2 linked regions of the Homo sapiens genome follow. The protein of the gene in region 2 interacts with the protein of the main gene of each other region in a pairwise test. Each region holds a gene or a part of one and is shown on either strand. Other genes may lie near its edges.

What was found. Proteins that work in one complex are often made in the same cells at the same time.
Region 1: the proteins of SOCS7 (region 2) and NSMF interact in binary tests that used the Homo sapiens proteins (3 or more experiments, as listed by UniProt).

What each region holds. Positions count from the first base shown.
Region 1 is NC_000009.12:137,452,639-137,456,383, reverse strand, and holds part of NSMF (NMDA receptor synaptonuclear signaling and neuronal migration factor), read left to right. Parts: intron 1-749; coding exon 750-755; intron 756-1,076; coding exon 1,077-1,145; intron 1,146-1,154; exon of another isoform or gene 1,155-1,297; coding exon of another isoform or gene 1,298-1,638; intron 1,639-1,940; coding exon 1,941-1,993; intron 1,994-2,563; coding exon 2,564-2,653; intron 2,654-3,203; coding exon 3,204-3,328; intron 3,329-3,564; coding exon 3,565-3,648; intron 3,649-3,745. UniProt on the Homo sapiens protein: Couples NMDA-sensitive glutamate receptor signaling to the nucleus and triggers long-lasting changes in the cytoarchitecture of dendrites and spine synapse processes. Part of the cAMP response element-binding protein (CREB) shut-off signaling pathway.
Region 2 is NC_000017.11:38,354,709-38,358,453, reverse strand, and holds part of SOCS7 (suppressor of cytokine signaling 7), read right to left. Parts: intron 1-3,745. UniProt on the Homo sapiens protein: Substrate-recognition component of a cullin-5-RING E3 ubiquitin-protein ligase complex (ECS complex, also named CRL5 complex), which mediates the ubiquitination and subsequent proteasomal degradation of target proteins, such as DAB1 and IRS1.

The sequences.
Region 1 (3,745 bases), on a different chromosome or scaffold from region 2:
CAGGGTTGGGTGGTCTCTTTCTGCTGCTCAGGAAACAGCACTTTTTCCCAGTCTCTGGGCCTACCAGGGGGGCTGCTTCTGAACAGACCCACGTGCCTATGCTGTGCCAGGCCTGCCAGGGAGGCCAGGGCTGACTGCTCTTCCCCTCCCATGGCTGGTGCCCAGCCCCCCCCCCCACACACACACAGTCAGGGGACCTGGCCCAGGGCTGCAGCTGATGAGCTCTCAGTGGGGTGTGGGGTGTGGCAGGTTCTCCTGCTCCTATCCACTCTCCTCAGCCTGTGTCTGCCCTCCCTCAAACCCCAAATAGAAGCCTACTTCTGTTTCATACGTGCCATAGGTCATCACAGTTTCAGGGTCCCCGCAGGGACCTGCTCCTCTCTGTCTTGACATACATTTGGCTTTTCTGTTCTGGGATTCCTTCCAGGGAAGTTCCCTTTGCTGCATTGGTCCCCACACCAAAGAAGTGTCCTGCCCGGGGGAGTCCACCCCACACCCAGCCTCAGGCTGCCTGGTCTCAGCAACCAGTCCTTGTGGCATGGGCTGCAGTGACATCAGCTTCCGTTGCCCATTCAGGGCTGGCCAGCAGTGTAGCCAGCATCCTGCTGGTGGCTGGGTTACCTGTGAGGGACCTATTGGGTCAGTGACAAGAAGGGAACTGTAGGGACCGGGTGGGGGCTGAGGGGAGGCCCGGGGTTGAGCTCACTGTGTCTTCTCTCTCACGCCATCCCTTCTGGCCCTGGCTTCAGCATCTCGTAAGTACCTGTATGACTTGGTGCCTAAGGGCACAGCTGTTGTCCCTGGGGAGACCCTCCCACCCCAAATAGGTTTGGGCAGGCCAGGGACCTGGGTCTTGAGGGAGTGCCGCTCTCTGCGGGCCTGGCTCCCAGCGGGCACCGAGGTCGCAGCAGGGCCTGCTGGGAGCTGGGCCTCGACAGGTGAGGCAGGCTGGGACTCCTCTGCCGGGCCCCGTGCCCCAGACGCCCTGCTGGGCCCTCTGCTCGCACCACTGTCCCGACGTCTGTGTCCCTCCTGCCTCCGGCCAAGGGCAGTGCTGACTCGCGGTGGTTTCCCAGGGTGTTCAGGGGCTACGCGGAGAGGAAGCGCCGGAAACGGGAGAATGATTCCGCGTCTGTAATCCAGAGGTAGGGCCTGCCAGCCACTCGCCACCAGGGTCCATCTCTGGTCTGTGCTGGCCTGGCCTGGGCCCCCTCGGCCCTGGCAGACCTGATGGGGGAAGGGTGGTGGCGACCACTGGCCTGGCCCTGCTCTGGGGACGTGGCAGGCAGGAGAGGCCATGTGGCCCGGGCTGCAGGAAAGCATCTCACCCTCAGTCCTGCACTCCGAGGGCACGTGTCTCTGTCTGGGCTGGGGCCAGCAGCAAGGCCCCCCTCCCCCACTCCAATCACACAGATGTGTCTGGGAAGCTTTTTTGCCCGTTTTGGATGTTGGGCCTTGGCAGGGTCCAAAGTTTGGTGGAGGAGAGGACCTGCCCCTGAGGTGGCTCAAGGACACAGAGCAGGAGAGGGGGCTCCTGCAGGCCCCCAGCCCGCCATGGGGTGGTGCAGACAGGAGCCCCGCTCTGCTGCAGCGCAGGCAGGCTGGATCCTCTGCCACATGGGCGTGGAGGCTCAGGGCGTAAGTCCCGGGCGAGGACGGAAGGTCAGAGCCTGGGAATGCAGCTCGGGAGGAGACTTGATCCAGAGCGCCAGGCACTGCACCTTTGTTCTGGAGTTGAAGGGGAGCCCTGGAAGGCTGTCGCGGGAAGAGCACTGGGTGGGATTTGCCTTTGGGTGGGAGGTGGTGCCAGGAGCCAGGGAGAGCACTGGCTTCCCACACCGAAGGGGTGAGAGTAGAGCCATGACCCGACGGGGGCTAGGTGGGCAGGGGCTGCCGTCACCCTCTCACGGCCCTCTTCAGCCCCTGGCTTCCTCCCCCAGGAACTTCCGCAAACACCTGCGCATGGTCGGCAGCCGGAGGGTGAAGGCCCAGAGTAAGACCCCGTGCGGCGGGGGTGGGGGGGCGGCGTTGCGCTTGGCTGGTTGGGGCTTTGCTTGCTGCTAGCTGCGATAAGAACGACCCCCGCCCCAACCCCAATCGGGCCCTGCCTCAGGCTCCTCCCCTTCCAGCCACTTCCCCAGCCCGGCCCAGGCTCCTCCCCTCCCAGCCACGCCCCCAGCCCGGCCCAGGCTCCTCCCCTCCCAGCCACGCCCCCAGCCCGGCCCAGGCTCCTCCCCTCCCAGCCACGCCCCCAGCCCGGCCCAGGCTCCTCCCCTCCCAGCCACGCCCCCAGCCCGGCCCAGGCTCCTCCCCTCCCAGCCACGCCCCCAGCCCGGCCCAGGCTCCTCCCTTCCCAGACTCCGCCTCTGGCCCTGCCCCAGTGTTCTCAGATCCTGCCCCTGAACCAACCGAGCCTCTGGTCCGTGTCTGCTTCATGTGCCTTAGACCCCACCCACATTAGCTTCCTCCTCTGCCCAGGGCCCCTGTGGTCCCCTCGCCTGGGGTCTGAGACTCCCGAGGCCCCGCCCCACCCGCTCGCTAATGCGGGTTTTGCTCTCTGCAGCGTTCGCTGAGCGGCGCGAGCGGAGCTTCAGCCGGTCCTGGAGCGACCCCACCCCCATGAAAGCCGACACTTCCCACGACTCCCGAGACAGTAGGTGCCCCGCACAGGCCCGCCCACCTTCCCCAGAGCCTCCCCTAGACCCCAGACCCCTGCTGGGGGTCCCCTGCCAGGGCCGCTGGGCTGCGCTTTTGCACTCCTGAATCTTGGTTTACCTGTTTGTGAGATGGGGACGCCCTCAGCATCTCCGATCGCAAAGGCGGGGCTAACAACGGCCGCGGCAGTGCTGGCCGGGGGCGCCTGTAGGGCCGTGCCCACCGCCACTCGCAAGAGGCCCTCAGGGGCAGGGGGCTGCGGTGCCCGCCCCCACTCCCTCCCAGGCGCCCGGCGGACTTGGCTGGAGCTGATGCCTGCACGCGCCTTCCACCGGCCTCGCACCAGGGTCTCCCTTCCCACATCAGGCCGCTGCCCAGTGGTGTCCACAGGCCTGTCCTGCCGGGCTGGCGGCGACCTCTGTATGGTCCTCCCACTTGCTTGGAGGACCCTCCGGGATGGGGCTTTCGGGCCCTGTGGGCCTTGGGGCCATGGCCAGGATAGGAGGTGCTGCCGGGCCTGCTGTCCTGGTGACCCTCTTGCTTCCCAGGCAGTGACCTGCAGAGCTCCCACTGCACGCTGGACGAGGCCTTCGAGGACCTGGACTGGGACACTGAGAAGGGCCTGGAGGCTGTGGCCTGCGACACCGAAGGCTTCGTGCCACCAAAGGTCATGGTGAGGCCCAGCCCGGGCAGTGCTCCTCTACACCCCGAGCAGGACTCCGCCCCAACCCGAGTCCAGCCAGCTCTGCCTGGGACCACGCAGCCTTCTCCAGCTGCCTGGGGGAGGGTGTCTCACAGGGCTATACCCTTGGGCTGCCTGGCAGCCAGAAGGTAGCCTCATGGGGGCTCCCACAGCCCCTTGGCTTTTGGATGGGCCTGGGGCCCCTGAGCAGCTCTTTGTCTCCGCAGCTCATTTCCTCCAAGGTGCCCAAGGCTGAGTACATCCCCACTATCATCCGCCGGGATGACCCCTCCATCATCCCCATCCTCTACGTGAGTCCCGCCCCGGGCCTGCCCCCAACAGATGCCCTCTTGCGGCCCCACCCTGGGCCAGCGCCGGCACCCCAGGTCCCCAGGGTGCTGTGGCGCT
Region 2 (3,745 bases):
GTACCTACATTTGTATTTTATTATTATTCAAAGACATACACTTTATATATCCCCTTTTGTATACATGAACCATTTGGAATGATAAAAGGCCATTCTAAGCTGACACACTATATTTTGGAGAGCAATATGAATAAAGGAATTTCAGATAACATTTTAAACTAACCCTCTATACTACATTCCCATGTTATTTATTCTTCCCCAGATCACCTCAAAAAGCATTAGGGTGCAAAGTTATACCCCTCTAACTTTGCCAGTAGACCACTTTCATCTTAGCAGCAACAAAGACTGGAGGAGTAGGGTGGGAAAGAATAGCATTTGGTGGGCTGTGCTTCAGGTGACAGAAAAGGACAGGGCAGCAGGCCTTAGGCAAAGGTCTTTGAGGCCAGCAGTCCTTTGTGTCAGCTAAATTACTGCCTATGCTGTAGGTAACAAAAAAACAGGATGCCTCTGTCCATTTCTACCCTGCAAATTATTAACTGTACTGCAACAGATTTATGGGATAAAGGAGTTAAAAGCATTAGACTAGACAGAACAACAACACATAGATGTAACCATTGGCTGGTTTTCAAATTCCTTGAAACCTAAAATAAAAACAATGAAAGAATAATAACCTATCTTGCCCATAAATCTCCTGTACTGATGCCCTAAGATTTACACATGTCCTTTTCTAAAGTAACTTCCAAACTAGGATGTCCAAATACCAGATTTTATGGCTCCAATGTACCTCTGCCCCTGCTAAAGCACACGGTGCCAAGTCAGCCAGCCTGTGCCATTTCCAACACGTCATAAGCCAGTGTCTGTTCATGTGCTACAGGCACAAAAACCATGTGTTCATTTTTAGTTCCAATACACAGACATCTGTGCAGCAAGGTCAGATCCAAAACTCCATCATAAACCAACTAAAGAACCTATAGAGGGAACTTCCAGGGAAAAGCCAAGAGGCATGGTCCAAGGTCTAAAACCTTAGAAATGATGTTGGCAGAGAGAATGTTAAGGAGTGAGAAGCACTGCACAGGACTCAAATGGACAGAGATTTTTTTTTAAGCCCAGGAGTTCGTTCTAAAGGAGAGCTGCCAACCACAACCACTTCATGGAAAAAATAGTTAAAAAGATCAACAGTGTGTGGACCCAAAACCCAAACATAAAATCAGAACTTCCTCGCCACACCATAAAATCATTTTGCTCTCAGCATGTCATGCTATTACTCAAAAAGATCCCTTTAGACCTGAAGACCCAAGGATACAGTGAAAAAAGTTTCTCACGTCTGCCAGGCCTGTCCACGACAGCAGGGCCCCAAATGGATGCCAAAGCAGCCTGCCTCTCTTTCCAGAATTCTATATTTTGTTTTTTTCCCCCCCAAATAAATAGATAGGAAACCACTACAGAACCGTCCTCCATTTCTCCACCTCACTACCATGAAGACAGCCAGTAATAGCCTCATCTGTTAACTTGGTAAAAAACAAATCTTGAAAAGTGAACAAGGTACCTATTTCCAACCAAGTGTGTATTACGTGATGATTCAAAATGGTCAGATCAAATTAGATCTCTCACCAAATCCAAAGGAAGGCAATCAACTCAACATATGAGAAACAGACATGGGAACTCCACTGGTTTTCCTGAAATAGCAATGCTAGATTACACTGAGGACCACAGGCATCAAGCCCAGCTCTTTGAATTCCAACATATGTGTGTTATAAGCCCTAGCCCAGTTCCCCAGAACAGAAACCTGATTAGTTGCTGGGCCCATTTCTTTCTTTCTTTCTTTCTTTCTTTTTAAAGAGATGGAGTCAGCTGGGCGTGGTGGCTCACGCCTGTAATCCCAGCACTTTGGGAGACTGCGGTGGGCGGACTGCCTGAGCTCAGGAGTTCGAGACCAGCCTGGGCAACACAGTGAAACGCCGTCTCTACTAAAATACAAAAAATTAGCCAGGCGTGGTGGCGTGTACCTGTAGTCCCAGCTATTCGGGAGAATGGCTTGAACCTGGGAGGCGGAGGTTGTAGTGAGCCAAGATCGGGCCACTGCACTCCAGCATGGGCAACAGAGTGAGACTCCATCCCCCCGGCCCCAAAAAAAAGATGGAGTCTGGCTCTGTTGCCCAGGCTGGAATGCAGTGGCACATCATAGCTTACTGTGCCCTTGAACTTCCTGGGCACAAGTAATCCTCCTGCCTCTGCCTTCCAAGTATTGGGACTACAGGTGCACACTACCACACCCAACTGGTGGGCCCATTTCTTACCTCACTTAAAAACAGTTATCTAAGTTGGCCAGACTTGGTGGCTTATGACTGTAATCCCAGCACTTTGGGAGGCCAAGGCAGGCAGATCACCTGAGGTCAGGAGTTCGGGACCAACCTGGCAAACATGGCAAAACCCCAGCTCTACTAAAAATAAAAAATAAAAAAATGAGCCGGGTGTGGTGGTGGGCCCCTGTAATCCCAGCTACTGGGGAGGCTGAAGCAGAAGAATCGCTTGAACCCGGGAAGCAGAGGTTGCAGTAAGCCAAGATCGCACCACTGCACTCCAGCCTGGGCGACAGAGCAAGACTCCACCTCAAAACAAAAAACAAAACAAAAAGACTTCTCTAAGCTAACTCATACCACACTGAAGACAATATATCCAGGTAGGTCCACTTACCAGACTCAAAAGCAACTAAAAGGAAGTTTTGCTTAGTGCTAAAATGTGGGAATTGTTAAACCTTCTAAAATGATTGTAGGAAGGCAGATGTTGGGAATAGCAAAGGGAATTATGCCCAGAGGTTACTGCAAAAGCCCCAAATTATACAGCAAAGACTATAGAAGCCCATAATTAACTCCAATCAACAATGAGGACAAAGGCATATACCCTTTGGCAAAAGACTGAAATTTCTCACCATTTCCAGGTCCTACCAATCAAAACAAGAGAACAAGCTAAAAATCCAAACTCATCCTCCCACTATTGCGGACTTAGGAGGTGCAGATCCACAGAAATCACAACTACCCTGGCCAGACTCACCAAGTTTCTCACAGCTGCGAGGCTGCCAGCAAGACTGGCACATAGTAAGCTGTCGAAAAGCTCACAAGCAGCACCAAATCCTAAGCATTAAAAAATTTACCAGCTCAGTCCTATTACTTATCTTCTAAAAAGCACAAAATATTCCATCTAGATTTCTCTTCTCAACAATCTACTCTTATAAGGACAGGAACAAGACAGTCAACGCTCACCCATTTTACAGATGGGGGAAAAAGGGAAGCATGAAGGTGACAAATTTGGTCATCTCCTAGCTGATGTTGGAGTTTACACGGAATCTAGACTTTCACATTCTCTATACAGCATGCTGCCTCCAAACAGCAGTCAACCAAACGTTTATACACAAATAACTAGCTCTTCTCCAATTCATCAAAAAAAGCCCTTGGACCAAAAAATGTAATTCTCCAGTGCCCTGAACTAAGCTTCTTTGCAAAGCTACAGCCCAATTTGCTCTGCAGCAGAAATCTGTATTGTGCTTAGTGTGAGGGTTGGTGACAGAGCAGCCAATGACCATTAAATTCTGCTTCCAAAGGCAAAAAACCGTATAATGTCATATGCCTTTTCCTCTTCCTAATCTATTAGACGTAGCAGCTAATTTCACGCCACACCTCGTATTTGGCGTCTCTGGAATCTCAGACGAACTCCTGGTCAATATGGAACAAAGGCAAGACAAACCACAAGAAAATTAGCAATCTATCCTATGTCATTACCCATAGCTTTAATCCCGCCCTCCCCTGCA